Regions from separate parts of the Homo sapiens genome. Here all the other regions are linked to region 2. Evidence: fine-mapped expression QTL. A gene starts in region 2. Each other region holds a variant in brackets. All regions are shown on one strand. Distances are between the middles of the regions.

Region 1 (8,000 bases), 52 kb after region 2:
GGGAACTTTGGATGGATTCTCTGGTGCTACAGAAAAAAACAGTAAATGGTCCTTCAAGTGTATCAGTGTAGAACTGAGAGAGAAGAGGTAAAACTGAAAAAGAATAATGAATTTGTTTTAAGATTGAAGACCTTCCTGAAATAATTCAGTTACTTTGGTACTGCCTAGCCCTGTAAGCATTTTGCTTGAAATTTAACCTTTTAAGCACCATATGCTAACCATCACCATGTATCTGGGGGCAAAAAAGAAGCCTTAACTACCATTCCCTCACTCTGTCCCCGTCATGACAACAGGAGCTAAGTCTTGAACTGGGGGTTACACAGCACTCTTAAGTAGGCGTGATAAGTTTTGCAAAATGTTCAGTATCTCCTCAGTGTCTTGTCCTTAGGTAGAGACAGGTCCAGAGCTACAAATGCACCCATGTGGAAGAGATTTGATTCAGCAGAACAGCAATTATGTAGTGCCCTGGGGCGGGAAGTGCTAATAATGTTTCTCAGCTCTTGAAGAAACCCCTGACAGAATTTTAGTTCCACTACAGGTATCAAAAAGATTCCCAGCTCTAAGTCTTGGATATTAATAAGGCTCCACTGAGAGGGAGAAATCCCAGAATCAAGAGAGCGCTCCCTTCCCAGCCCTGCCTCCAAAATGAAGATTGAAGGAAGTTTTTATTCTCTCAATACAAAATTGTTCAGGCACAGTCCTGGTGGTGGTCTGTTTGTAACTTTAGTGTATCTGGGACTGTAAGTAACACCTGTCTACGCTCTTCCCATGACCTATAACTCCCAGAGATCACCTCTTATGGCCGCCTCTATCTTAAAGTTGAGACCCGGGACTTGGAAACCAAAGCCTTGCTGTAGTAAACAAATCAGCAGTCCTTTTAAATGCTGGAGGCACACACAGGTCTGTTTTCCCATGAAGCAGGAGGAAAGAGGAGAAACGAGATTCTAGAAGATGAGCCCAGCATCTACCAAAAAGAGGATACAATGGAAAATCTTACAGAAACAAATGTCTGGGATCCCACTGATGCACAGCCGCCAGACCAGAAGAGGAGGGGGAGAGTGAGTGCTGAAAGCAGAAACGAGGCTCTGCTGAGCAGGCACAGAACATGTGTTTACACGCTGTTGTGGGCCCAGGAGGGAAGAGCGGGCACCTCTGGATACAGTCCACAATGTCACCATGGCCAGTCGCCCCAAGGGTTGAGTTGGGGCACTCCATTGTCCAAGTGCCGACCTACCTGCCAGCCTTCCCTTTCCTCCTCCTCCCAACAAGTACATGGGCCCTTCTGTCCCCAGTGGCCTGCTGCAGTTTACTTCCCATGGGCAGAACTCCGGTGCGTGAGTGCTGATTAAAGCGAAGTTTCATTGGTGTGTGGCCTGGAGTTCTCCTCCTCTAGCAGAGCTATTCTTTGCTTGAGCATCCTCACTTGGGTCTCATGTCTCTCCACCATGGCCATCATCTGCGACTCTAACTTCTTCAGTTTGTTTTGATGCTTTTTCTTTGCTTTCTCATAGGCAGCCACCAGGTTGCTAGGTGGGAATGAAGGGAAATTGGTATTAAGATTCATCCTAAGTAGCATCGTGACACCATCCTGTCCACTGGATAACCAGATCTAGTGAGCACTGCTCTGAAGAAAGATCACTCATCCTCTTCGGTAAGAATCTGAAATCTAGTGGTCAGAGGAGGGACAGCACCAGGATGTCAACACTCAACGGCCAGTCACCTACTGGCTTAACCCTGATGAATCCAGCCGGATTGCTAGAGGCTGGTCACTCTCACATATTAGAAGGGGTTCTAAGAGTCAAACCAGCAATCCAAATTGGCCCAGTCCAAAACGGATAAATACAAATAGTGGGTCTATTTGTTGCTCCATGGTTGCTTGCAACATAGTCAAGTGTATCTTACAGGAGAGTACTCCTAAGGCACTGCAATCAAAGTGACCATACCTGGGACGAGAGCAGAGAGGTTGTTCTTGTTCCACCTTCCCTTTATGCTTTGGGCTGGTGGGACTCGGAATATTAAATTAGGCCATAAGCCAATGCTGCAAAGCCAAACATGGAATATACAGGCCTTTGAACTGTTCCCACCAGAGCCTGGTGGTAGGGTATACAGTGAGCCCAGGTAGGTCCATTCCATGTACAGTCATTACCCTTACAGCTGCAGTTCTCCCAGATAGTCTGAGGACTCACCCCAGAGATTTGTAAAACCCATTCAGGAGGTCTGTGAGGTCTTGAGCTTTTATTTCCAACTATAGAGCTGGATGATGCCAGGTGTTCTCAATATACATCCACATAATGTTGACTACAGAAGCAAATGTGAGAACCTAGCTGTCTTCTATTAAGCCAGACATTAAAGATTTGCAGAATTGTAAGACCAGTGCCACTTTTCTAATTATTTCTTGGAAAATAGTTTTTCATAAAAATGCCATTTTTTTTTTTGTAAATGAAATAATAAAAACTTTAAATAATTTATCTTGGTTTTAGTTCTAACATGAGAAGTATCAATAAATACAACTTACAGGAACAAAAGCTCTCTGAGGTCCTCCGTTTTTTATAGAGAAGAGTCCTGAGCCCAGTCTTAGAGCAGTATTTCCTGAAGTATTCCAGTGGATATTGTGTTGCTCAAATAAATTCCATGGCTAATTTTGTTTGGAAAATACTGGCTTAAACAGATTTTTTATTATATGACTTCTCAGAACATTTAAGATACATAATACCAGGAGGCATATACCACAGTATGCTACATTTGGCCAAAGGATGTTGTTACTGAGCATTTCTTAGTTTCCACAGACCATCTTGGGAGATGCCACTCTAAGGAAGACCAGGCTCTTAGAGAGCCAGGTAGGGACTCACCCACTTTCTAGAGTTAGTTCTTAAGAGTTAGGGAAATGTCCATCCCTGGTGCTGTGTCTACATGCAGGGTGTCAGTCCAAGTACCACAGGTGGAGGGCGGTGGGGGCTGGGTATAGGGAGATTTTTACCTGTTGGCCCGCTTTAGATCATTCACGAACTCTGCAGATTGCTGATGTCGGATTTCACTGCTCTTGGTGAGTCTCTCCAAGGCACTCACCAGCTCTTGAACTCTGGCCTTCAACTTCTTTTCTCTATATTAAAGGAGACAAAATATGCCAGGAGTAGTTTGAGATGATGCTGGAGGTGCCCACTCCCTGGGAAGTGGTGACAGAAAGAGGAAGGTTTAGCTTGCAAAGCCTAAAGGCAAGGGAGAGAAAAGATACTAAAGGGCCCAACAGCGCTACTGTCACCTGAATGAATTCATTCTCAAATGCAGATTTAAACCCATTTCTTCAATGACAAGGGCTTTTTAAAGATCTTATGTGTCAAAGAAAACAAGACAGGAATTTCTGTTTCTAGTCTTCTAGCTAATCTAGAAGTTCCTTTCTACTATTGGCATACCAGATCCTCAGCAATGAGTGCGGCCTGACCACAAACCCCCGTCTGTCTCCATCCCCTTCTTTTTCAGGTGTCCTAAGTATCTCCTGAACCACTCAGGTTTAGCAACCTACCTTGAACAGGTCCCCACTCATTGAGACCAACATGATCCCACCTTGCCAAAAACCAAAAAATTGGTAGAGGGAGTAGATATGATACTCTCTTCATTGTAAGGGTCCTTATTTCCCATGAAATTACATTTGCACTTTTGACTACGTGCCCTCCACAGGCAAAGCAGCTTCAAGTTCTGTGGATCCTCTACTACTTTGGTAACCCAAGCTAATTAGAGTCAGTTCAGGGAGGTTTCCAGTATCCAGTCAGCTCATTGCCTTCCTCTAATTCCCACAAGACCCAGCAGGGAAACACTAATCAAAGCCTTCTCGACTACTCTGACTCCCTTCCAAGATCCTTCTATCACATGCACAGTGTTACTCCACTTAGTAGCACACTCAGCACTATGTCACCGTATTACGTGCTGGAGCCATGACGCTCCCCCATGGTCATGTTGGGTTCTAGAGTGGCAAGGACTTTACTTGGTTTGATTCCCCAATGCACCCCCAGTGCTGAGCACCGTGCCTGGGTGACAGCTTCTAGTGACTGTTAAAACAGCTTTAGAACAACTTACTGAAGGTAATGTATTTGATTCTTTGGGCATATTAAGAAACCAGGATTTAGGGAAGGAATTCGTTTAAAAAGGACTCACTGTATGTAGAATGTAAATTTGCATGATTAATTTATAAGACAGTTGGGTAGGATCTAGCAAAATAATAAATGAACATGCCCCTTGACTAAGCAACTTCACTTCTAGGAATTGATTTTACAGAGATATCAGGAGCACAGGTTCCTAAAGATACATCACTTATATTTGGATTCACTTAGGCATTGGTTACAATAATGCCTAATAAAGGGAGACAAGCAGGGAACTGGTTAATCACGGCCTACCCATGCTACCGAAATGCTCTGCTTGAAAAATATTTTTAAAATGCAGATGGAGGGCTGGGGGCAGTGACTCATGCCTGTAATCTCAGCACTTTAGGAGGCCAAGGAATGTGGATTACTTGAGCTCAGAAATTGAAGACCAGCCTGGGCAACATGGTGAAACCCCATCTCTACAAAAAAATATAAAACTTAGCCAGATATGGTGGGTCATGCCTGTAGTCCATGCTACTCAGGAGGCTAAGTTGGGAGGATCGCTTGAGTCCAGGAGGTCAAGACCAGTGAGCCATGATCCTGCCACTGCACTCCAGCTTGGGTGACGGAGTGAGACCATCTCAAAACAAACAAAAAAATCAGATGGCCATGCACTGGCATGGGAGGATATCTGATACATTAAGCAAAAAGGGTGAGTTCTAAAGATGCCATTTTTGTAAAAACTGAAAAGCTGAGTGTGAATATCTGACACTGTAATAAGACTAGAAGGTGAAACACAAACTCAACAGTGCTTAACTC[C/A]TGAAGGGGGTTGATGGGAGGCTTTCATTTTCTACTTCACTCACTTTTGCATTGCCAGATATTTTTACAATTTTGTATATTTTCTGTAAAGTGCGAGTTAGAGTCATGTAGGAACGGCATGGGAATGTGACGTCGGGGTAGAAGGCTCCTTTCTGCTGCCCAAACTGTTCAGACCCTGGTTCTCCTTTCCTAGCTTTTCATATATCTAATCTTTTACATTTCTGCCTTTAGCTACTATGAGGGTAAGTCAAGCTCTCCAAACTGATCAATGAAGAAAGGAATTACAACGTAAAATCCAGGCCTGCTTTTGGGAGAGAGGATGGAAGGGGCAGGATCTTTAAGGGAAGTCTAGCAACCAGCCCTCAGCCCAGAACTCATTTTTCAGTAAATCCTCCTACCCGCCTCTGCTAAGCTGGAAGGAGCGTGTGTTTTTCCTGGGCCCTAGCAGCCTCCAGGACATCTCGGATCTGGCTGCATTTCCTCCCGGCATTGGAGAGTGGCAGCATTTCCTACCAGCAGTGAGGATGGTGTTGCAGGAGGGGGGCTCCTTTCCTCCCCACCCGCCCCCCAACACCTCCTCGGCCTTCCCAGCAGTCCTCCTCCAGCGGAGGGAAGCCAGGGACTCCTGCTTCCCTCCAGCTAAAAACAGCAGGGAAGGGTTTTTTGCCCTACATTTTATTACCATTTAGAGCCCTTTATCTTTCATTCTAATGTTGATTAATAGTGTAAAAGGAAAAAAAATACTGAAGAGTTAAAAATGTAACCACAAACTCAATAAGAAATTCACAACAAAAAACTCTGGGATGCTACCTAGAGCAGTCAAATCCCCTCCCTCCCCCACTCCTATCCACACTCAGTGAACAGGGAGACTGGAAATCCCAGCCCTTCCACAAGACAAAACGCTTCCTTCCCCAGCACCCAGGCCCTCAGGGGACCAGAGGGAACTTTCTGGATCTGGCAGGCTCCAAAGGAGGATAGAACCCCAGAAGGGCAGGAGAGAGTCTCTCAGACCCAGGCCAACCCCAGCTTAGGGTTGTGGCGCAGGAGTGGGGAGTAGCCATTGCTGGGAGCTTAGAACTGCCTGGCCTTCAGAAGGGAATGGGAGTGAACCGCTGGGAGAAACCCCAGGAAAGAACTATGATGCTCATTTATTTAAAGATGCAAAGACGAGGCCAAACTGTAAACTTAAACCTAAAATTTGGGTTGGTTGATCTGTTTTCATGACAACACAAAAAAATGTAAAATATCTATTTAGTTTAAAAAATACTGATTACAGGGGCCGGGCGCTGTGGCTCACGCCTGTAATCCCAGCACTTTGGTAGGCCGGGGCTGGCGGATCACCTGATGTCGGGAGTTCAAGACCAGCCTGACCAACATGGAGAAACCCTGTCTCTACTAAATACAAAATTAGCTGGGTGTGGTGGCGCTTGCCTGTAATCTCAGCTACTTGGGAGCCTGAGGCAGGAGAATCGCTTGAACCTGGGAGGTGGAGGTTGCAGTAAGCCGAGATCGCGCCACTGCGCTCCAACCTGGGAAACAAGAATGAAACTCTGTATCAAAAAAAAAAAAAAAAAAAAAAGGATACTGATTACATGTTGAGATATTTTGGACATACTGGGTTACATTGTTATTAAAATTAATTTCATGTGTGTCTCTACTTTTTTCATGGGACTACTAGAAAATTTAAAATTACATACATGCCTTGCATTTGTGGATCATATTATATCACCAGTGGACAGTGCTGCTCTAGACCAATTGTTTAATGCTGTCAGAGGCATGTGAACCAGAGCAACTCCATCTTAAATAGGAGTTAGGTAAAAGTGAGGCTAAGACCTACTGGGCTGCATTCCCAGATGGTTAAGGCATTCTAAGTCACAGGATGAGATAGGAGGTCAGCACAAAATACAGGTCATAAAGACCTTGCTGATAAAACATTGCAGTAAAGAAGCCAGCCAAAACAGCAAACCCAAGACGGCCACAAGAATGACCTCTAATCGTCCTCACTGCTACACTCTCACCAGCGCCACAACAGTTTACAAATGCCATGGCAACATCAGGAAGTTACCCTATAACGTCTAAAAAGGGGAGGTATGAATAATCCACCCTTTGTTTAGCATATTATCAAGAAGTAACCATAAAAATGGGCAACCAGCAGCCCCCAAGGCTGCTCTATGGAGTAGCCATTCTTTTCCTTTACTTTCCTAATAAACTTGCTTTCATTTTACTCTGTGGGCTTGCCCTGAATTCTTTCTTGCACAAGATCCAAGAACCCTCTCTTGGGGTCTGGATCGGTAATATTTTCCAGTAACAGCATTACCAGATATTTTCCCTGGCTTCTGACTAAGTAGGTTTCGGTTGAGACCCAGGAATTGCAGTTTAACAAGGGCCCCAGCTGACTCTTGTCATCAGGCAAGCTTGAGGGACTGGCGTAAGGCAGAAGAGTTCCTCACCTGGACCTGAGGATGAGCTTCAGTTACTCCTGGAACTGACTTTCTGAATTTATATGCAAAATTGCAAGCACGGGGCTCACTTTATCAAGTCTACAGTTTTCCTCAGATTTTCAAACGATGACATGGAAAATGCAAAGAAACATAGCTTACTAATTCAAGTCACATTGAAACCTCAACCATTCTTGTTCCTTTCTCCTTCTAATTTAAATTTGCTTAGCCTTTCGTTAAGATTTTATATGGTTTGGGTACATAAGTTAGGCCAAAACAAGCTTTCTTGGCTTCACACAAATGAGAAAGCAAAAATTCAACACTACACGTTCCATATGCACCTTCAATAGTAATGTATTCATACAGTGTTTCCTGGAATGGCCAGAAATACATAATCCATTCCTTTTTTATGCCCAGTAGTATTGGCACTCACAAATATACCCCATAGCATCAAGCAAAAACAATGCTGGATTGTAATGACTGTGACAACTGAAGTCCCCCAGTACACACATGGATTTCAGTTCCACGTCTTCCCACTTCAGCTTTTGGGCTTCTTATTCCTGGTGATAAAAGGTCGTATGACTCTAACCGCAGAGCCAGGGTGGGACTTTTAAGAGACAGGGTCTTGATCTGTCATCCAGGCTGGAGTACAGTGGCACAAATCACA
Region 2 (8,294 bases):
ACGGTGGCTCATGCCTGTAATCCCAGTGCTTTGGGAAGTTGAGGAAGGAGGATTGCTTGAGGCCAGGAGTTTAGGACTAACATAGGCAACCTAGTGAGACCCCTGTCTCTACAAAGTTTTTAAAAAAATAATTAGCCAGGCCTGGTGGTGCGCACTTGTATTCCTAGCTACTTGGGAGGGTGAGGTGGGAGACTGAGCCCAGGAGTGAGCTATGCCACTGCACTCCAGCCTGGGCAACAGAGTGGGATCTTGTTCCAAAAAAAAGACTAAATGAAATAGCATATTTTAAAACTATAAAGGTTTTAATCAACCTAATTATTTAAAAATCAAATCAGTATTATAATTTAAGAACCCTAGCATCTCCTGTTCTCCTGTTACCTCAACTCTAAGCTCCCCTTTGTCATTCTCAGCTGGGTCCTGTGAACAATTAGATGGAATTGAGGCCTTGGTGTCCCTATTCACTTTAACAGGGATGGCACTAGGTTCAAGAGGCTGAAGAAGAGACCCAGAGCCAGCAAATGAGGCATATGGTTTATTGAGAGGAACTTGCATACAGAGCGGTCCACTAGAGGTGAGCTGGACATGAGAACAACATCACCTGCAGAAAGCATGCAGTTTATATAGCATTTTCATTTTGCACCCTCTCCCTAACAGCTTCCACCTGACAACTTTCATTTAGCCCAAAACAAAGGGCCTAGCCCTCCTGTGCAGCCTGCATTCCACAGGGCTCAGATGTTCCTCATAGATAAGGAATGAATCTTGGTTGTAACTGCAAACTCATTCAGGTTGTCTGCCACACAGGGTCATTCCCCTGGGTCTGCTTACGTTACTGCTGTCAGGTGCCTCTACCATACAGTTGGCTTCTTTGGAAGTCATGGCTTGGGGGGCTGCTATAAGGGTTGCACTAGTCCAGCTCCTGGAAATCTGTGTGTGAGGAGGCAGTGGAGGGATGGGGCATGGGCAAGATAATATCTTGGACCACAGACATCTCAGAAACTCTTAATAAGGCAGATTGGTTTAACACCATGTGAGAGTTTGGGGACTTCCTGGCCTCTAAGAGCCCAAAAGGGGTTGTATAGCTGCCCCTAAACTGGGAGACTAGAAAGCTAGTAAGAAGAATTCCTCCAGGTGCTTCAGCAAGTGCTTGGTAACCTGCTTGTTTCTATTAATATACCATTGGCCCATGTGGGTGAGCACCACTTTGCCTTGAACTGTTGTTCCACTGCCATCATTTAGAATACTCTAAAAACTAGACTTGAGCTCTAAGTGAGACAACTAAGAAAACCACTATGGTGCCTCCCAGTCAGAGAAAAGACATTCAGTCAGAACAGGTAGAATGCACACCCAGCAAAATAGAACTGAAGGGGCTCACTCTTACCTTTACCAATCCATCCACTACACTGGCTGGAGGTCCAACTGCTAGTATCTGCATTTCTTTGCCGTAGGACTTTTTCTGGCCACCAGAGCCCATCTTGCTGCCCATGTAGCAGGCTAGAGTGCAGACCCCAGGAGCTGCCTTCAACCAATGAAGGAAGTTGGTATATAAATCCCCATCTCCCTCACCCCTTGAGTGGGATAACTCTGAGGTATATGTTTTATACTGGCCACCAGAGTTCTCCAGTGACAGTAAGCTCCAGTTAACCACAGTGCTAATTTCCTTGATAATAAACCTTTTGGCTTTCCTCCCCTCCTTGACTCACTTTCCTGCTCTCCTACCAATGTTTCCCAAGATCACCTCCCTCACAGGCTATCTGCACTCAAAATCTTGTCTCAGTGCCTGCTTCTTAGGAAATCTAAAATAAGACTTGGACTGTGCTGGGAGTACTGAATAAAGCAAATGGAATACTGCAGCCTGTGCTTCTGTACTGGACTCCCAGAATACATGAAGCTGTGCCTGGAAGCATTTTCTCTTTAGGGAATTTCATCAGCAGAAAGAATTACGTACAGATACTGATACCATGTGTTTCCAACCAACAGCTCAGCCAGATCATCCTACAGTGAAGCTCTCAGGAAACAAGTACCATCTACAAGGTGAGAGCTTCCAATTAGCTTTCAAGGCACTTGACTCCAGGTTAAGGCCTTACTCTTAAGTGTGAGTGAATAGTCAAGGACTACAGAGGCTTCTAATAGGATAGATGAGATCAAGATAATAGCAAAAAGCAGCTGAGAGGAATAAGACTACTCAGGGAGAAGAAAACGTCAAAATCTATTATTAATATCCTCAGAAGGATAAAATAAAATATACAAAGCAAGAATGTGACACCACAAGAAAGGGGCATTTGAAGAACAAAACAGAACTCTAAATAAGTAAAAACTCTGTAGTTGTCAGGAAGATAAATTTGAGGAATTCTCCAAGAAAGAGGGGAAAAAAAAGATGGAAAACGGGAGCAAAATAGATGGTGACGGGCCTCTTATGCCAAAGGAACTTGGGCTTGATCATACAGCAGAAACTGAAAAGATAACTTGTTCCTATCTGAGTAAAACAAAACAAAATGTAGGCAGTTGCACAGGCCAAGAATGGAGGCAGAGTCAGTGGTTAGGCAGCTCTCACTGTAGTATGGAGAAATGATGCAAAACTGAAGTACACAGTGGCATGTGACAAATTTAGACAAAAGATGGGAGATTAAATGGTAGAACAGACTAAACTTGTGACGGAGCAGGTGTGTGTGGGCCTGTGGGTCTGATGTAAGAGGAAAAAGAACAGATGGATCTAGTTTCTCCAAAGATCCCAAATGGATTGGTCTCCATTAAGCAAGACGAGGAATGAATAAGGACGAGCAGGTGGGGATTGCTTTGTGCAGAGGGTGGAATACAGATCAGAGTTCAGCTTAAATCAGTATTTTCTAAGATTTTGCTAGGTGCCAGATACTGAGATAAAGTCCTTGTCTTCATGTTTGGAACCAGGTGCCTAAGGAAGCACAGAGGAGAGCCACCTCCAAAATGGATACCCTCTCCAAGGGTTTGTAGTGAAAGAGGCACAGCTCTTGGCCTGGAGTTGGTGGGGGCTGCGATAAGTGCAAGATACTTGGTGACAGGAATCGCGAGCATACTCTTGTGTTGTACGGATTCTCAGGGTCGGCCCTGCAGAGGAAAGAGCTCAGTCACCGCGAGGTCCTGCACAACATGCCAAAGTCCCGGATATGTGTCCGGGGTCTACACCTAAGCCCCGACCCCTCTGAACTTCCCAGAAGCGCGCAGGAGGCATGGTGCGCATGCGTGTAGCCACCTCAAAGGCGGCGGGAAGTTGGTTTTCTGAGTAGCAACTGAGCAGCTTGAAGACGGATTGGAAGTAGCAGACCAATAAACAAACGTCTCATTGGCTTAGAGTGCTTAGAGTCCCAATTCTTCAGCTTCCCATTGGGCCTTTCAAGCGAGCAGGGGCGTGACTCCGGGGGCTCCGCCCCGAGCCTTGGCCCAGTCTTGGGGTCCAAGGCTGAGGGAGCGGGACGGAAGTGAGCGGGTCCCGCCCCTTCCCCTTCTCGTCTCCGTTGGAGTCGTCTCTGCCGCGGCTTCCTCGGCTGCCAGCTCTCCGGCGAGCCGGAGTCCTAGTGCCGTACCGTCAGTCCCCGGCCGCGCGGAGCCGGGATGCACTGTTCCTGCTGTGGGTCCTCATCATGGAGACCAAACGGGTGGAGATTCCCGGCAGCGTCCTGGACGATCTCTGCAGGTACCGCGCTACCCGACCCCCTTTCGCCCCCGTCGGGTTTTCTCAGTTTCGCGGACCCCCAGAGGCCTCTGGGTCTTCTTCCCCGCCCACGTCCATGTCCTCGCTTTCCGCTCCCGCCGCTGCTCGCTTTCCATCGTCGACCCTGCTCTCCGACGACACCGCCCCTCTTTCCGCCGCAGCCTCCCTGTTTCTCAAGGCCCTCCGTCCTTCCCCGCAGAACACCCGGAATTTCCTCATTTTTTAAGTTACTCAACTATTTTGCTTTCCCGCAGGCGTAGCCGCTTCGCCGGAGCCTGGGTCTTAGCGTTTTGCCGCCGCCGCCGCCTCCCTCTCCCATTGTTTTTTCTGCCTCTGTGACTTTTCCACGCCGTGCACCCCCTCCTCCCTGTGTCTCATTCCCCGATTCTGAAGGAAGACCCCCAGGGTAGTAATTTAAGGCTTAGGATCCCAGGTACGCGGACCTGCGCAAGGAGCAAATTTTCGGACTTATTCTGACGCCTGCGTGTTATTTGTCCGTGGCGTTCTCTGTAAATTCCTGTAAGGAATTACTTTTTTTTTCTCATCCCTGGACTTGTCTTTGGGGGAGAGAGGGAAAAAGTGTAGCGCTGCTTTTCTTTTTATCCTTAATAATCCTATTTTAAAGGAAATTCTCAACCGCGGGGTTTTAACTCAGGGTGTATACTTCAGATGAGAAATTTTCTGCATTCTTCCCCCTTGTCAACTCTGATTTCAGATAGCCAAACACGTGTAGGATACTTAAAAATGCTTATTTTCCGAAGGTAAAATTTGGAGTGCAGTGATACCCGGAGTTGTCGCCAAGTGTGTGTGGATTGTGATTACAAGTGATAACACCTTTTCGTTCACAGTTACTGTGTTTATGTTTTAAAAGGCAGGCTTTTAGTAGTTGTATCTCCTTCATGCAGTTTTTTTTAATGGAAAGTAAAGAACTGGTGTTTGTGGAGTTTTTTGGGGTTTTTTTTGTTTGTTTGTTTTTTTGTTTTTATTTTTTGAGACGGAGCCTCTTTCTTTTGCCCAGGCTGGTGTGCAGTGGTGCGGTCTTGGCTCACTGCAACCTCTGCCTTCCGGATTCAAACGAGTCTCTGCCTCAGCCTCCCTAGCAGCTGGGATTACAGGCACCCGCCACCACACCCGGCTAATTTTTGTATTTTTAGTAGAGACGGGATTTCACCATCTTGGCCGTGCTGGTCTCGAACTTCTGACCTCGTGATCCACCCGCCTCGGCCTCCCAAAGTGCTGGGATTACAGGCGTGAGCCATCGCGCCCGGCCTGGAGTTTCTACTGTGCACCAGGCACTACCTTTACATGTATTGTTTTATTTAATCCTCAGTCAGCCGTGTTTGGTAGGTGCAGTTAGTATATTTCCATTTTCATCTGCGCAAACAGATTCAGGAACTTTGTAATTTACATAAGGTCACATTCATCCTAATTCACAAAATCAAGATTTCACACCTATTCCTTTTTCTTTCCAGTGCCTGTGCTTTTTCTCTCATACCAAGGAGAAGTAATAAGCCTAACGTTTTAAACCTCACAAAAGTACATACAGAAAAGTAAATAGCCTAATTTTGCAACTAATACAAATGGCGCTGTACTTCTTTGGTGATGGTAGATTTATAATTTTTGAAGTATGGTAGATTCAAATGAACCACTGAAAAGGCATTTAGTTTCTTGTCCCAAATAAAAAAAAAAAAAGGAAAAAGAAACTGAATTTGATATGTGTATGTGGGTTAATGACTAGACGCACATCAACCAATAGTGGGATTATGAGATTGTGATCTTTATTTTTTGTTTCCAATATTTTTTATGCATTTTATAGTTAGAAAAAAATTGAAGATAAGTATTTAGAAAGGTGATCAGTAATTAGCTGTGTGTTAATAGGGTTAAGAGTTGATTTAGAAAAAGATGTGGTAATCTTAAACATTTTACAGACATCAGAGCTAGTCTTCCTTCTAGTATTGGGGTTAATTTGCATATTATCTAGGATTACATCATTTAAATAAGTGATGTCAGCTGTTAACGATTTTATGTATGGAACCTATTCACAAAATAATTACGTTGTATTTTGTAAACAATATGTTAAGCACCTGTCAAGTGTTAAAGATAGTTGGTTTTCCAGTGAGTGTATTTAAGCTGTTAAACAAATATTTTTGAATGGAGTAACATTTTTTTCCTTTCAAGAAATTTCTTTTTGCAGTTACTGTTTTTGGCTGTATAAATAAGGATATGATATATTTAAAAATTAGGGCTGGCTGTAATAATGAAACCAAATAAACATTTCTCAAAACTTCAGATTTTAAAATAAATGCCATTTTCAAGTTAATATTTATAGCTTTGATTAATTGAAATATTTTTAATGTTACAGATTCAAGCTTTTCATTGTAGACTAAAACTTTTTTTTTACACTTAGAATTTGGTAAACTTCTGTAAAAATAAAGCTTAATTTGAGGTTAATTTTTCTGAACTTCTTTGCTCTCTTTTATGTACGTCTTGATTTATGAATTCAAGCTAGGTGCTTGTTTTTACTCCCTTCATTTTTTGCCCCAATTCTGTTGCTTATTATTAGTGTATATAGGAAGTTTTCTTTTGTGTTACTTTGTTTTTTGATAAATTACATGTTTCTGTTAAATCTTGCCTTTTGATGTGGAGAGCAGCAGACTTAAATTTTCAAAATGTGACTTTGTAACCTTTAGACTGCTCATAACCTAAGGCTGATGCTTTAGTATGTAACATTCTATTTATTGGAATATTGTGCAGCCATTCTAAGTTCCTCAGGCAATTAGCACACAGTAAACTGAGGGAAAATATTTGTGTGTTGAAAAGATGTACACAGTATACTGAGTGAAATACTTATTTAGTCCCTTGGTGCCTTTTGTGAAAACAAATTTTTAAGTGTGTGTGTGGGTGGGGAAGGGGTATATGTATTCGTATGCCGAAAGAATATGCGCCAAACTGATAACACTGGTTACTTTCTGAGTGGAGTAGAATTAGAGGAGAGGAAGGGAAGAGTTTGGTCTTAAAATATTCTAGTGAACAAAAAATGCTTTATAATTTAAAATGTATGTGTAAAGGTGAATCTGCAGCATTTTATGGTGATACTTGTTTTTGATGAACCATGATTTTTGATATTAAAACTCAAATACAGAGTTTTTCAGTACTGTTTAAACTAGCTTATTAAAGAATTGAAAAGCAAGTTTTTAAAGTAGAAACTGAAAAGTTGGTTGATTCAAATAAATGCTTAGAATTTTTTTAAAGCCCTTTTTAAGAGTTGGGTATAGTAAGGCCACACTAGTGTTAAAAGAAGAAAGGTATTTTCTGGCAACTAGTGTTGCTGCTATTTTGGTGATAGCGTAGGTTAATTAAATAATTTGTGCTCATCTTCAGCTAGCCGTGTTAGTGTTGAATTCAACCGGAACATTTTTCTACTAATTGCAATCCTTGTGCTAATGTCCTGTTTGTAGGAACACTGAGAAAATAACATTTCGTGTGATGCAGTTTTTTCCGTAACAAATTGTAATGGAAAGCATTTTATTTCAGCTATTACTATATACACGTCCATACACATATGTACACGTACTTTTGAACTTTAAAACAGATCAAAAGCATTCACAGAATGAACGCATTAAATGTTTAATTTTCGTACATCAGCTCTTATAAACTTAAGTCAACTTTTTACTATTAAAAATATGTAATCATGTACATGGTTTTGAAAATTAGAGTACAGACAGATTTATAAATGACAGGCAACAGTCTTAGTTTCTTTCCCTACCCTTTTCTATTCCTGTTGAGGCATTGACTTTTACTTGTTTTGTTTTGAGTTCTTCTGGTGGATACCTCATATTTTAAAATATACTTGTGCCAGTTTCTTGTTTTATCAACTTTCTATATTGAATTGAGGATTTGGTTCAATTTCGTAGATACTAGATGAGAGTTCAGTTTACCACACCCACTATTGCCCCCATCTTACTTCCAGTATGTCTCTATCAGTATTTTAAATTGTTCCATTGTTTACCTTTGTGACTTTATGATTTTTTTTTTAGAGACAGGGTCTTGCACCATTGCCCAGGCATGATCATAGCTCACTGCAACTTCCAACTCCTGGACTCAAGCTATCCACTTGGCTCAGCCTCCTGAGTAGCTAGGACTATAGGCATGTACCACCATGCCCAGGTATTAAATACATTTTTTTTTGGTAGAGATGGGATCTTTGCCCAGCCTGGTCTCAAACGTACTTGTAGCCTCAAGCAATCCTCCTGCCTCAACCTCCCAAAGTGTTGAGATTACAGGTGTGAACTACCATGCTGGCCCCTTTGTGACTTTAATATACTTAAAATTATATTTGTTTTACGAACTTACAGTATTTCTTGAGTCTCTGATATGGTGAGATGATTAGTGCCTCATTTTTTCTTGCCCATTCCCTCGGCTTCTATCCAGATTAACTTGAAAAAAATTAGGGTTGATAATATTTATATTCTATTTTGTAAATCTACGTCTGTTATATTTTGTGCTATTTGTTGATTGTAAAAGCTGAACAATAATGATACAGTGTAAATAGATATGTAGTTTTTACAGTAGAGGCAAGTCTTCAGCGGCTAGTTTCTTTTCCATCGGG
Region 3 (8,000 bases), 62 kb after region 2:
CACATAACCTTGGAAGTCAGTACTATCATGATTCTCATTTTTAAGGATGAGGAACTTTTTTTTTTTTTTTTTTTTTTTTTTTTTTTTTTTTTTTTTGAGATGGAGTCTCACTCTTTCGCCCGGTCTGAAGTGCAGTGGTGCGATCTTGGGCTCAACACAACCTCCAACCCCTAGGGTTCAAGTGATTCTCCTGCCTCAGCCTCCTGAGTAGCTGGGATTATAGGCACCTGTCACCATGCCCAGCTCATTTTTGTATTTTTAGTAGGGACAGGGTTTCACCATGTTGGCCAGGCCAGTCTTGAATTCCTAATTTCAGGTGATCCACCTGCCTTGGCCTCCGAAAGTACTAGGATTACAGGCGTGAGCCACCGCGCCTGGCCTATAGATGAGGAACTTAAGATTAGTCCCTGCAGAACTGGGACTCCCACCTGGGATTCTGTCTGCAGAGCCTGTGCCCTTACGCATCTCACTGGGTAGTAGCCTGTGATTCACAAAGGGAATACAGTAGAGTGCAAGATAAACAAGACCTCTGCTTAACAGTGCAGCCCTGCAGAACTAAGGCTCAAGTGTCCCCAGATAATGAGGTTCTGCAGGTATGTCGGTGGCTGTGTTTTGCCAGGAGTAGCAGCACAAGGACAACAGCAGTCTAACTTTTTTTTGCCCAGACTTTGCTATGAACATGTTTCTTGTCCAGGAAATCCATCTGGAGTTTTCACAGGCCTTGCCAGTGGCTGCTGGGTGTTCCAGTGCCCTCTACCACTCTGCCTTTATGAGGTCCCAGGCAAGGCCTTCTTCTCTTTGAGCTTTGGGGATGCTGGAGGGATGGCAAAAAAGTAAAATAAATCTCAATTACTCAAGCAACAACCCCTCCATCCCTTGAGTGAGCCTCAGTCTTCACCCTCTGTGCTTCTAGGCACTTGGCTCTGGGGCTCAGCAGTTTATTTGCGTGCTAATGAAGCCACAGGCACACTTTGTATTCCATTAATGTCCTGCAGACCCATGTGCTTTTATGGAATTCTAAGCACAACTTCCATTGCTTGATTGCTTTTATACATCAACCAAATATGAAGAATCAGCAAGTTTAAATAAAACAGCACCTTTTACAATAATGGTCCTCCTCATGAACCAGTGAAGATTCTGCTGCTTATTTGTTCAGTGGGGGCTCCCTTTTAAAAAGCACCCCACCCACTTCCCTTTTCATTTTATCCCACTCTTTGTGTGGCTCAAAAACAGTATTCATCCACAGCTGCTGAAATAGGGGTCAACTAGGGTCATCCTTTTTCCATTCAGGGACAAATGTTGGTTCCTACAAGTCTGGAAGTTTTCTACAGTTGGGTGGATGGTGTATGAACTTGGACATGGATTTGAACTCTGAGGAGTCTCGCTGGCTTTTTCGAAGGCACTGGTAACAGTCAAGGGCTCTGTGGGCCACTGATGGGTAAAGAGTAGTCAGGGCCGGGCACAGTGGCTCATGCCCGTAATCCCAGCACTTTGTGAGGTTGAGGCGGGCGGATCAGTTGAGCCTAGGAATTTGAGATCAGCCTGGGCAACATGGTGAAATCCTGTCTCTACTAAAAATACAAAAATTAGCCAGGCGTGGTGGTGTGCACCTGTAGTCCAAGCTACTTGGGAGGCTTAGGTGGGAGGACTGCTTGAGCCTGGGGAGGTTGAGTCTGCACAGAGCTGTGATTGTGCCACTATACTCCGGCCTGGATGACAGAGTGAGACCCTGTCTCAAAAAAGTACCAGAGAAGACTCAGAGAATAGCGGGAAGATACATGATGGAGGTGACTGAAGGAAGCTTCAAGATGGTAAGCATTCTGATTGGAAAGGATGAGGGAGAATCAGGGATAAAGCAAAGGGTGTGCTCTTGGAAAGATGAATTGTCCAGAGGGGCTGGACTACAGATCAAGCATGGGGAAACATTTGAAATATGGGCTAGGAAGTTAAGTTAGGGACCTACGGACAATCTTGAGTGCCAAGGCACTGAAGGTGCTTATGCAGAGCACCCTAATCCGAAGTGTGTTTTAAGGTATTCTGGCGGCAGAATCAAACTACAGAATGACCCATTAGGACACTACTCTCTGGGTTCTGAGGGTCAGTGCGATGGAAAGGAATGGAAGGGATTTTAAGGAATTATGACCTGCTGACGAGAGGTAGGGAGGGGAGACTTACAAGTTATAATCCTGGATCATTAGGAGAAGGGGATTTTTAACATAAATAGGAATTCATCAAAGGGCAGGAAGAAACAGAATTGTATTGGATGTGCTGTTTTGAGGCTTTAGCATATTTGGGTGGAGATGTCCAGTGGGCATGAGGTTGAGATAATTTAGGGACCATTTAGAAGGAACAGCTGAAGACATGAGAGTTGGAGTCATGTACTTGGCTGAGTAAACCACAATCCCTGGCCCTAAAAGGACTCTCTTTCTGTGTGGGGACTGAGGGTTAAGGAGGGGAGTTGGGGGTAGAACCAGGCATATTAAGAAATGAGCAATGAAATGTTCCATGGGAGAAGGAAATTCATGGCGCTAGGAACCAAAAAAGAAGTGGGAGAGGGTGTCATTTCTGCTGGGAGGTGGAGGATGGGAACATCCGGATCCATTTTACAGATAGCTGTAAGTCACCTGATGTGAATGTTTGGGGAATGGCATTGGGTGGGGCCAGGACAAAAGCAGATGCAAGACTGAAGCCCCAGAGGCGCAGAAGAGGAAGAGCAGTCTCACGGCAGGTGTGATCGATCACACTGACCAGACAAGGCCCTCCTGCCACTGGATATATCCTTACAGGGCTCTGGCACACAACCCTGTCTTCCAGCAGTGGCAGCTTGCCTACTTCTTATTCAGCAGAGAGGGGAAAGGAAGCCCTCTTCTGGTGGATGAGTCAGGGGCATCCTGTCCCTGGACAGAACGGCCACTGTGATTTGTCGATTGCCTTAACGTGGCATTTTACAGAACCATCTGGCAAACACGCAGACACAGATGGCATATTCCAGTTCCCTGGAGGGCTGGGCACAGCCCCTGGATGGTCGGTGACTAAATGACCGCAGCCTCCTGGAGGGCAGGGCGCTGACTCCTGCAGGTAGTATGTGAGGCTCGCCCCACCCTGCTCCTGGGTAGAGTGAAAGGCGAGTGCCTGTGAGGCAGCACCATGCTCTGCTCCTCACCATGGCTCAGGTGATGTATCATGGTGAGGAGCAGCGCACCTACTTCCTGCCTCCCAGCACTGAGGAAGCACAGATCCTTACTTTAAAAAGATATTTTTTACTTATTTATTTTTTAAAGACGAGATCTCGCTATGTTGCCCAGGCTGGATTTGAACTGGCCTCCAGGGATGCTCCTGCCTTGGCCTCCCCAGTAGCTGGAACTCCAGGTGTATGCAACAGCACCTGGCTCACTCAGATCCTTACCTTTTTATCAGCATGACTTAGGCTGACATATGCCATTGCTTCACAGCTCTGTGTGTTTAAGGAAGTCCGCCTCCCGCCATGGCACCTCATTTGCCTTTCGCACTGACAGACTAAGACATGGCTGTTTACTGGAGGCATAGAGGTTTCTCACTGCCCAGACCAGCCACACAGCAGGTAGTCTTCAGATAAACGAGTGGGCTCAGCTCACTCATCGGCAAGCAAGCCCAATGCTGCCAGCACATGTGGGGCACAAGGGGTCCCCATAGAGAATGTAGAAACATGCAGACTTCCCCACTGCCTCACTGTGTGACCTTGAGAGATCACTCAGCCTTGCCGTCCCACTCCGCGCCCCCCCCCCCAACCCACCCCAGGATCACATGGAGAGCAGCACCTGCTCCCGGCTGCCTCCCAAGAATATGACGGAGATGAACTAGTCTGCTCCTCTCAGCTGTGCTTGGGTCCCGAGGGCGGGCTGCACAAACACCATGTGAGTACAAAAAAGGAGTCATTTCTGAAAATTCCCTTATTTAGCTGCCTTTTTATAGATCACTTACTTGGTGGAAAGATCAGTCAAATTTTACTAGGACCAAGGGTGAGAGACAGATCTGAGATGGAGAAGGTTTTTACAGCACACAGGCTGGATGGACAAGAGAGAAAACAAAATACCCTGTTAAGAAAACATCTCGTGTGCCAGACTGGAAACCTGGTCATCCAGATGGGGTTTTATGGCAATACCACAGCCAACAAACTGCAATAAATGTTCACCGAAGTAGGGGGAACGAAATCAGACCAGATGGGAGTTATACATACAGTAAAGGCGGGGTGGCATGTAGCCTTGGTTTTGTTCCAAACAGAAGAAAGTTAGGAGAAGATACACTGAGAGAGCCAGGGCTGAGTGACAAGGGCTGGCCAGGTAAGGGGAGGTTGGGTTGGGGACAGTGTCATGACCCAGAACCAGTGACTGAAATGTCACAGGGCACCTTCCCTGGGATGGCTGGTTCTCCTTAAGGACAGCCCATGGCTTAGCCTCTTCCTCTTCCCTTAGCGACACCTGATCTTTTCAGTCTGGATGCCTGCGCCTACAGTTTTGGTGTCTGGCACCATCCTTTTTTCAAGGGAGAAATA[C/T]TGCTGAAAATGCTGGTAAGATTCCCCCAGCTGACCTCAACCATAAGCTCGGCTGTGATTTAATACCTTCAAAAAAGGTGTTCGTTTCCATTTGATTTTTTAAAATAAAAACCTCAGGAATCATTTCATCAAGGTATATAATACAAACCCAAACTGCAGCCCTGAGGTGTGTATATTGTATCCCCTCATGAAGTGATGACCCCAGTTTCTAAGCTATATTTACAGTATCATTATGTTATTTTCCTTTTTCCTTTACCTCTGTAAGTTTGTTCTTGGCTCCATCCACCTGGGTCTTGATTAGAAATCCATGCTAACCAACTTAAGGCTGGTTATTGGAAATCCATTGTGACTGACAGAACAAATGAAGTCTCTTTATGTTTAGTCAGCACAATCTGCATCTTCCTTGTGCCAGCAAAGGCCTCTGAGGTTTGGGGAATTTGAAAAACTTAAGGGCTTAGCTTACAGATACAATATCCAAATGGCTCCCACTGGAAATAGCGAGTGGGATTTCCATCCCGTGTTTCTGGCACAGTTAAGTCATTAGGATTTGTTGAGGGCATTTTTCTGCGCAGCTTTTCTCTTCCCGCCCCAAGCAGAGCAACTGCCATTTAACTGCACGGCCAGAGGCTCTGGCAAAGTACAAACAGAGCTATTACAACTTGGAAGGAAAGACAAAAAGTGACAATAAATCAGGAAGGTAGTGAAGTTCCCCACAAGGCAACCTTCCATCCACCATCAGCTTGGAGGCCATCCTATAAACAGGCCCGCTGGATCAAGTGAGCTGACTGAAAATACACTGTACCCTTCCCCTCCAACCCTAAATCCCCAGAAATGGCAGGAAAGACATTTTTTAAAACCCCTGAGCATCTTAGAAAGGAGTGCTCTTTGTATATCAGAAATCATGCTCAATCATAAAAAATGAAAGGCAGATGTTTTCTTCTTCCTGAAGAGAAAACCACAATGCAAAATGAATGCAGAAAAATATTCTGCAAAAGGAAGAAGGGGATTCAGAGGTGCTCCAACCAGAGGTGTTGGCTACCAGAACAGGAGGGGACCAAATGCTTGGGTCAGATACGCAGACTAGAGGGCTGTTATTAGCCAGGAGACACAGAAAGCCCAGGAGACAGCTTCTGATATGACCCAGCTGACAGCACTTTGAAGGACCTGGCTACATTTTCTGGGTGGCAGACTGTAATAAGTAGAAGCAGGACTCTCAAATGGGATGGCCGGGTGCAGTGGCTCATGCCTGTAATCAGAGCACACTGTGAGGCCAAGGCGGTTGGATCACATGAGGTCAGGAGTTCAAGACCAGCCTGGCCAACATGGTGAAATCCCATCTCTACTAAAAATACAAAAAATTAGCCAGGTGTGGTGGCGTGTGCCTGTAGTGCCAGCTAACTTGGGAGGCTGAGGCAGGAGAATTGTTTGAACCTGGGAGACCGAGATTGCAGTGAGCCGAGATCGCACCACTGCACTCCAGCCTGGGCGACAGAGCGAGACTCTGTCTCAAAAAACAAAAACAAAACCTCTCGAACAGGTGACCTAGGAATTTAAAATACAAGAATGAACACACAAACAAGAACCGCTGAATATTTAAAGAAAGCAAACACCAAGAAAGAGTCACAAAACTCAACTATGAAAAGAATTACATGTGAAGAAACAGAATTAATACAGCAGACAAAAAAGATGAAGGAATTTAAGGGCCGGGCAGGGCACTGCATGCCTGTAATCCCAACATTTTGGGAGGCCAAGATGGGAAGATCACTTGAGCCCAGGAGTTTGAGACCAGCCTGGGCAACGTAGGGAGACCCTGTCTCAAAAAAAAAAAAAAAAAAAATTAGCCAGGTGTGGGGGCATGCACCTGTGGTCCTAGCTACTTGGGAGGCTGGGGTGGGAGGATCACTTGAGCCCAGGAGATTGAGGCTGCAGTGAGCTGTGATTGTGTCACTGCACTCCAGCCTGGGCAACAGAATGAGACCCTCTCTCAAAAAAAAAAAAAAAAAAAAAAAAATTTAAGCATTATAAAAATCCTCAAAGAGATGCATATCACTAAAAAAGAGATGACAGATTTAATCACCAAAATAACTCAACATATAGGTCAAACATCACAATGAACCTAACTAAAGAATAAATTAGTGAGCTGGAAAATTTAGCCAAAAAATCTGTCTCTCCAGAACTGCAACTATCTGATAGGGCAGCCACAACCATATGTGGCTCTTGAGAACTTGAAATGTCTGAATTTGAGATATGCTGAGGTGTAAAATACATACCAGGTTTTGAAAACTTGGTTAAAAAAAAATTTCATTAATAGTTTGAGAAAATATTGACTATATGTTAAAATAATGTAGACATATTATGTTAAATAAAATGTTATTAAAGGGAATTTCAGCTGTCTTTGTTCTTTTTAATGTGGCTACTAGAAAATTTACAAGTACATATGTGGTTCACATTACATTTCTGCTGGACAATGCTGCTGTAGCACCCGGGGAAAAAGCAGTGATGGAAAGAAGGTATGAAAAGTGGAGATACGGAAGACAGAGCTAGATGAATCAGCATCTGTTTCTCCTTGCAGGAGGAGATAAAGAACTGGGGGGCGGTGAGGGGAAAGAAACACTGAAATAATAGAGGAAAATTTCCCAGAACTAAATAAATACACAAAGCTTTTTCACACTACCAACGCTGAAGGAAAGTATTCCTGCTGAAGTTGGAAACAAGGTAAGAGTGCCTGTTTTCACCTCACTAGTTAACACTGTCCCGGAAGTTTCTAGCCAATGCAACAACATAACAGAAAAGGAAAGGAAGAGGAATTTTCCTATTCACTGATGAATCAATGACTGCCTAAGTGCTGTCTCTTAAGTGCTCTCTCTTCTCACTGTTTTGAAAGGCCTGGCACCAACAGGCCTTCTCCATTTCTGGCTTCCAAGACATGGGTAAAGTGGAACACATCAGCACCTTCTCCTTTTGGGAGCAGCAAAGAGAACTCAGAACAAAGTCTCCATGCCCAGGATAAACACCAGCTGGGGTGGGGAAAGGGTGCTTACCGACGAATGGCGTTGGTGAACTCCGCAGCCAGCTCATTCTCGCTGCACGTTGTCCTGAGTTCGGCTAGGGACAGAGCTGGGGAGGCAGCATCAGCACACTCCTGACAACAGCAAACACATTCCAGTTAGGCCTGAATCCAAGCCGGCAGCACCCTGGAAGCCTGCAGCAGAGCGCGGTAGGTGGCTCGTGCAGTGATGGCAGCAGTGTGGGCACCGGGTGGCGCCCTCAGGTCATGCCAAAGGGGAAAGCCTGGCAGCAAGCCAAAGAGGCCCCTCTGCTCCCAGACCGCTGGCTCCTTTTGCAGACTGGCCAGTGCGGTGGGGATGACACCCAGTATGCTCTGAGCAGCCGCTGATGCCAGGCACTGGTCTAAGCATGCCATATGCATTCAATCATTTAATCTCCACAAATACTCTCTGAGGCAGGA

Evidence for each region.
Region 1: its variant is fine-mapped to the expression of DCP2 in whole blood (TOPMed, PIP above 0.99). The same link has a PIP of 0.9 or more in Th17 cells and blood mononuclear cells.
Region 3: its variant is fine-mapped to the expression of DCP2 in whole blood (INTERVAL, PIP above 0.99).

Annotation. Positions count from the first base shown.
Region 1 is chr5:113,025,957-113,033,956 of GRCh38, forward strand. It overlaps MCC (MCC regulator of Wnt signaling pathway), which reads right to left. Exons shown (of 19, transcript NM_001085377.2): 18 at 2,978-3,100; 19 at 1-1,526. The coding sequence ends at 1,346. Among named protein-coding and RNA genes, the nearest start is that of DCP2, 53 kb to the left of the region's middle. The variant C/A (reference allele first, on the strand shown) is at 4,896.
Region 2 is chr5:112,973,320-112,981,613 of GRCh38, forward strand. DCP2 (decapping mRNA 2) reads left to right here and starts at 3,479. Exons shown (of 11, transcript NM_152624.6): 1 at 3,479-3,667. The coding sequence starts at 3,615. It overlaps LOC105379126 (a long non-coding RNA gene), which reads right to left and starts at 1,466. Exons shown (of 2, transcript XR_948679.3): 1 at 1,379-1,466. RefSeq lists enhancers at 2,970-3,019, 3,050-3,129, 3,145-3,904, 3,440-3,489, 3,560-3,649 and 3 more.
Region 3 is chr5:113,035,958-113,043,957 of GRCh38, forward strand. It overlaps MCC (MCC regulator of Wnt signaling pathway), which reads right to left. Exons shown (of 19, transcript NM_001085377.2): 17 at 7,573-7,673. Among named protein-coding and RNA genes, the nearest start is that of DCP2, 63 kb to the left of the region's middle. RefSeq lists an enhancer at 7,749-8,000. The variant C/T (reference allele first, on the strand shown) is at 4,532.